Linked DNA regions of Homo sapiens: region 1 is reported to be linked to region 2. Evidence: microRNA targets listed by miRTarBase, many of them from high-throughput screens and not tested one by one. Region 2 holds a microRNA gene; the other region holds the end of a gene's coding sequence.
What was found. Region 2 holds the annotated microRNA hsa-miR-2113 (AUUUGUGCUUGGCUCUGUCAC, at 1,040-1,060, opposite strand). A microRNA usually pairs through its seed, bases 2 to 8, with sites in the 3' UTR of a target mRNA and lowers its output. Matches are read on the target gene's strand: a 7mer-m8 pairs with bases 2 to 8, a 7mer-A1 pairs with bases 2 to 7 and ends in A, and an 8mer does both.

Region 1 (3,111 bases), not on the chromosome of region 2:
ACATCCCGTTTCCTGGTGGTATTGAACAGCATGTTGCCAGCTGTTCTGGCCCCAGAGCAACCTTGCAGGGAGGTCCCAGGGGGTGGCGTGTGCCTCTTTGAGCACATGCAGGCCTATGGTGGGGCCCCGCACCCGGCCTGTGTGTGAGGAGGGGCTGCTCAGCATCCCCACTGTGCCTGGAGACAGGGCCGGGATGTGGTGACAGGATGGTCACTCAGGTGTGGCCAGTCAGTGACCAAAGCTGCTAACAGAGTTCACTTTGTCCTCAGCTGCTCCCGGAACTGACCAACCCTGATGAGCTACTGTCCTACTTGGGCCCACCCGACCTCCCTACGAACAACAATGACGACCTGCTTTCTCTGTTTGAGAACAACTGATCCTGTGTTTACCCCAAGCCCGGCGGGGACACGCTCACAGATGTCACCACAGCCCTGCCCTTCATGCCCAGCCCCATGGGACACCCGGTGGTCTTTCCCAAACCTCCCCCAAAACACACCTGGAGCCAGAGCCTTCTGCCGCCAGCCCTGCCCCTGAATTGGAAGCAGCCCTGTGCTCGATGGGAGGGGCTCCCAGGCCGGCAGCCCTTGCCACCTCCCTCTGCCAAGCCTGCTGCTGCAGAACGGTTTTTGCTGAGGTGCCCCTGCCCAGCCCTGTCCAGCCTTGTCCACACACACATCTCACGCCCCTGGTCTCACAGCCTCACACCTTGTCCTTCCACCCCTGCCTGCCCCCACCCAGCCTGCTTCTTGTCCAGCATTGATCCTTCTGTTTCAACAACTCCTCCACTGGGCAGAGCTGGGCATCTGGCAGGGCTGGCTCTGTCCCCTGGGCCTTTGGCTCCAGTGGCCCCTGTGCCCAGCAGTCCAGCTCTTGGAACCTCGCTGAATGGCAGCCTCTTGGGGGCCTGGAGCTCTGGCAGCCCAGCCGTGTGTGGTGTCAGGTTCCTCTCCCCACCCCAGCTTCAAGCAGAGGCCTCGGGGTGGGGGAGCTACAAAGCACAACAATGTACATAGTGTAGAAACACTAACAGCTGGGAGAGGGGAGCCAGCTGTCCAGCCAGCATGTTCCTGTTGTACAGCCCGGTCTCCCTGCGCGCTCTGCTCCTTCCCATGTGCAGACAGATCAGGGAGGAACCTCCAATGGGTGGGGGACAGTGAGCTTCGGCCTGGCCGAGGTGGGTGGGTGGGCTCTCAGATTCAGCTCTGTGTAAAGATTCTCTAGCGGGCTGCGCTCCCAAGTTCCCCTTCTCTGTGAAAGTGAAGAATTAGTACAGCTGTGTTTTTTAAAGCCACCTCTCTGTCTCCACCCCATGGGCCCACACCCAGGTGGGGGAGGAGGAAGCCACTGCATCTGTTGGCTCAGGGCCCCAGCCTGTGCGAGCAGGGCGCCTGGGCTGTTGTGTCTCCTGTCTGTGCCGATCTCTATTAAAGGACTCCCTCTTGGTGGGCCTGGCCGAGTCCCTCCTTTGTGCTCCCAGGGACTATTTTCTCCTCGTAAGCCAGCGACCTGCCTAAAGCTTGGGCTGTGCCTGCAAAGCTTGTGCAGGACCTGGGGGCCAGGTCGACCTTCAAGTGGCTTTTGGGGCCCCAGGTTGAGCTCTGGATGTTTCAAGCCAAGGCTCGGCTATTCCCGCCCCATAGTAAATTTCCTTTTCCCTGGAATTTTCCAAGTTGGCTTCAGCTGAAGAGCTGTTTTGTGAAGCATCCCAGGCTTGCCCAGGAGAGACATTTGCCACTATGTCACCTTATCTGGGCTTGCCCTGGGGCACTGAGACAGTTGTTTGGCAGCCCCAGCCCAGCCAGGGGCTCATCCTTCTCAGCTCTTGTCCCTGGGAGGCCTCTGCTTGTCACTTCCCAGAGATTGCAGAGGTGTGTCCTGCCTACCATCTGCCTGTCCAGCTTGGTGGGGGTCCGGGTCACCATTTCCTCCAGTCCTGGGCCCCATCCTTGAGGGCCTTCCCAGCCAGCCAGCAGGAGAGGCAAGAACTGGGGGAACACAGGAACCTAGGGGAGGAGGGGAGCGCTGGGCATCCTCAGGCTGGCGGCCAAGGCCTGCCCCTGGAGGCACTAGAGGAGGGCATCTGTCTGTGGGAGCCCAGAGGCTGCAGGGAGGAGGAGGAGGGAGGTATCTGGTGTGAGCGTTGCCCCTGCGACATTTGGGACCACACAGGTGGGCTTCCTTATTCCCTGACAAAGCCTCTGTTTCCAGCTCTTCCGCCCTCTCTGGATGAGGGAACAGAAGTGGAGGAAACAAAAGAAGCAGCAGCACGCACAGTCCTGTCGCTGGGTGCGGAGACAGCCTGGCAAAGTCCCACTCAGCCATGGCCTGATGCAGGCCCCAGGCCCTCCTTTCTTGGGTGTCAAATGACTGTGTCCTGGACATCTGATGCACCACCTGCCCTGCCTGTTGCAAACGTGATGCTCCCGGATGGAGTGGAGAAACTAGGAGACTGGGACAAGCAAAAGGCTGCAAACAACCCAGAAGCCCATCCTCAGAAGACTGGAGAAATGATTGAGGAATGCATGGGCACCGTGGCCCTGTGCTCCATCACAAACACCTCTCAGAAACAACGTGGGATGAAAAAGCAAGACAGTTCATACAGTATGATGCCATTTTTATAAAGCTCAAAACCAAATATGTGTGGAATTCATACCCAGGTGCTAAAGTCATCAGGGAGGGCAGGGAGTCAGTACAACACAGTGCTCACCCGTGGGGAGGGGACGGAGCTGTGCTTAGGGAAGAGCAGAGATGCTGGAGGTTTTGAACCTCAGGGTCAGTGGTGGCTTCGTGGGTTTCACTTTGTCGTACTTTCTGTTTCACACATTTTCTTGTGAATGTGCCAAGTATTACATAAAAACCAAAAGGCTGACCAGACTTAACAGTGCTCCACCCAATAGCAGCAGAACACACGTTTCTAAGTGCACAGGGAACGTTCTCCAGGACAGACCACACGTTAGTGCACAAAGCAAGTCTCAGTAAATTAGAGATCGGAATCCTGCAAACCACCTTCTCCAATCACAATGGAATAAAACCAGAAATCCATACCAGAAGGAAAATGAAAATTCACACATACATAGAAATTGAACACACTTTTTAACAGCCAAAGGGTCA
Region 2 (3,111 bases):
AACCATCTGGCAGATCTGCTTTGTTTTTTACTTTTTATCCAGCTGTTGGATTCTGTGGAAGGACAGCCTAGGTCTATACTTAGATGCGCAAAGAAAATGATGTCAGATGTATATTGCTAGTCCTCTGGAAAACACTTCCTATTCAATAGGTTGTAGGCACCATTAGTGTTCTTGAGAGAGAAAAACAGAAATTCCATAGAGAAATGATTTTTATTTGGAACTGCCTACATTAGAACACATTTCATGGACTATGTTTTTTCATTAATGCATCCTCTTAAAATAATATAGAAATTTAAAGTAAGAATATAATTCCTACTAGCAAAATTTCCATATTCACTTTGACAGCAAGTTAATAAATATTTACTTCCAGGGAGCAAATCATCTTTGGCAGGGTGAAAAAGAGTGCTGCATCAAACCAGGACCAACTTAGAGACCAGAAGATGTTCTACCAAATACTTGTGTCCCTCTTCTAATATCAGCAAACTCACATGTGATGAGGCACCAAAATAAGAAACAGAGGTGGCCCATCAGTCTTTAGGATTGAAATTTGTTTTGAGTCCATTTTATAAAAGTTAAAGACCTCTAGGCTTAATAATTGGGTTTTCAAAAATTCACAACTAAAAAGAAAAACCTCTTTTTCTTTCCAGATAGTGTATATTCTTTTTCCTTAAAAAAACCTAACTACATATTAAAAGGAAAAACTAACCAACATAATAAATGTTACTTCTCTCCTCAATTTCTGTGATTTTTTTTTTACATATTCGGAAGTCATAAGAGGTAAACAAATCTCCTATAATGAAGCAGTTGATGGCCAGTGAAAATGAATGGATGCAGCAAATATTTTGTTAACAATAACATAGCCACAAAATCATAGTACATATACAAAACTCTTAAAAATTATTAAAGGATGCCATGAGATAAAGCAGGAGAAAAAAAACACTGGTGAACAAAAACAATCAGATGCTCTGGAAAGAGTAAGGAGAAAAAGATGGGCATGAAAATTTATAGACAGTTTGAGGGTAGGTTTTCAAAGTGGCATGTGACAGAGCCAAGCACAAATCCTCTTACTTATTAACGGGATTTGTCCCTGTACCTGTCACACATTGCTTTGAAAATATCTGCCTCTGTGAAAGGTATACTGCTTCTCTCCGTCAGTTTTACTCTTAAGAGACTAATGTATAATCTCTTTAGGTTTCATCTTTTGTATTTCTGTGCATATGACAAATTGTTTTGAACACTCTTCATCCATACACATAAGAAAGTAGGCACTAAGGGCTTATCACTGCATATTTAAAAATCCCTGAGATACTATTTTCCTCATTGGAAATAATTGTTCTATTAAAATAATCTCTGGATTTATCACTGAAGAATTTTCAACTAATGCATTCATGTCTTGATGCCGTGAGGCAATTGTTCTCAACTTTATCTGATCCAGTTCCTCCTTTTTATAACAAATACTTTGTAACCCGTTTACTATAACAAAATGAAATTCATAGATATTATAACCACTTCAAGAATATCATAGAAAAAGTCAATACAATGCCCCAACTATAAAATAAAAGAAATAAAAAGAAACAACTTTGTAATATTAATAAAATAGTATATATTTTGAAATGTAAATATTCTAGCACTGCCACATAATGAAGACATGAAGTCAAGTGCTGATACATGTGCACAGAATCATGATAAATTTGCAAAGGCATCAGCCACTAATGCAAACTAAAGTAAGATTGTTGTATTGATGCAGCAAACACCATAGAGTTGCCATCAATGAACAACAATTGGTAAACTTCGAAATAACAATTTCCAATTAATTTATGAGAGAGTTTGATTTCTGAAAAGTTCATTACATATTAAACAATGTAAAAAATCTTCTAATTCCATGTAAATGAAAATAAAATCAAAGTGTGGATAATATTACATAGGTTTTTCAACCACATGAATGTCTGATAGGATACTCAAAAGTTCTGTGAGCATAGGAGAGTTTTTCAATGAGAGCCTCCCGCAAGCAAGCTGCAAATGTCTATCATCCCTTGACTCCACCCAGGAGTCAGTGGTGGCCCTGGCTCCACACCATGCAATTTTTATAAAAACCTAATACATCCCTGCAAGTTTCCAAGGTTTTCTTTAGGGTGTGATACTCCTCCCACTCCGTGAGAATCACTGTGATAAGATTACAAAGAAGGAGAATTATAACAAATAATGGTACCTGTACCTTTTTGTTTTTATTTCGTTTTCCCTTTACTAAAGTGAGGCAGAGCTTCACTTTAAAAAATCCATCATGCAACTGACATTGAATTTACATATTTGTGGCAGCAACACTCAAAAGAGTCTTCTCATCATAACTTTTAGTTAAAAATAAATGAACTTAGCACATGTATTAGGAACATTTGAGTGAAACTTACTTAATGGAGTATCACACATGATATGTTTGACTACTTAACTTTAAAATAGAAGAATAGACTTTTTCTTAGGAATTACATTCTATACACATAAACCATTTATCCAGACATGCACAAAAAAATATAATTTGTAAAGCAGAGGAAAAAAGGAGATGCAGAAGGAATATGGGAAAGAAAAGAAATAATGGTGAAAGCTGTTGTTTCAACGGAAAAATAACTTTGCACATGACATGATATGATGCTAGATTTATTATTCCATTTATCCATTTATCCTTAAAACAAACCAACCATAGACATTTACCTTAGAAATATAAAGTTGCTTATTTCTGTGCATACAGTTTTACAGAACCATGGATTGATGGTTTCGTAAGGTATCAGTCACACTTCCATAGCATTTGCTGATATAAATATAAAACCTTCATTTTAAAGGATAAATAAAGCCACACTATTATCTAAACAGGGTAAAATTTAACATCCTTGTGGTTTGTGGAAATTTTTGATGTGCCTGCTGGCTTTTCAATAAAAATCAATTATGCCTTAAATGCGAGCGGTAGTCAACATACTACAGACTATAAATTCAATTTCATACTCAGAAATATGGATTAGCTGAACTTGATGCCCTTCCATTGATTTCAGAAAGCAAAAGCTGATAAGGTAAATAATAGTAAGAGGCTCTCTGACACTCCACATCAAGTTCCGGATTTCCATA

Region 1: the mRNA of ZMIZ2 is a reported target of hsa-miR-2113. The part of its 3' UTR that is shown has no 7-base or 8-base seed match.

The regions. Positions count from the first base shown.
Region 1 is chr7:44,767,247-44,770,357 of GRCh38, forward strand. It overlaps ZMIZ2 (zinc finger MIZ-type containing 2), which reads left to right. Exons shown (of 19, transcript NM_031449.4): 19 at 270-2,635. The coding sequence ends at 377. Among named protein-coding and RNA genes, the nearest start is that of ZMIZ2, 20 kb to the left of the region's middle. RefSeq lists enhancers at 738-1,264, 1,099-1,238.
Region 2 is chr6:98,022,535-98,025,645 of GRCh38, reverse strand. It overlaps MIR2113 (microRNA 2113), which reads right to left and starts at 1,115; the gene lies at 1,025-1,115.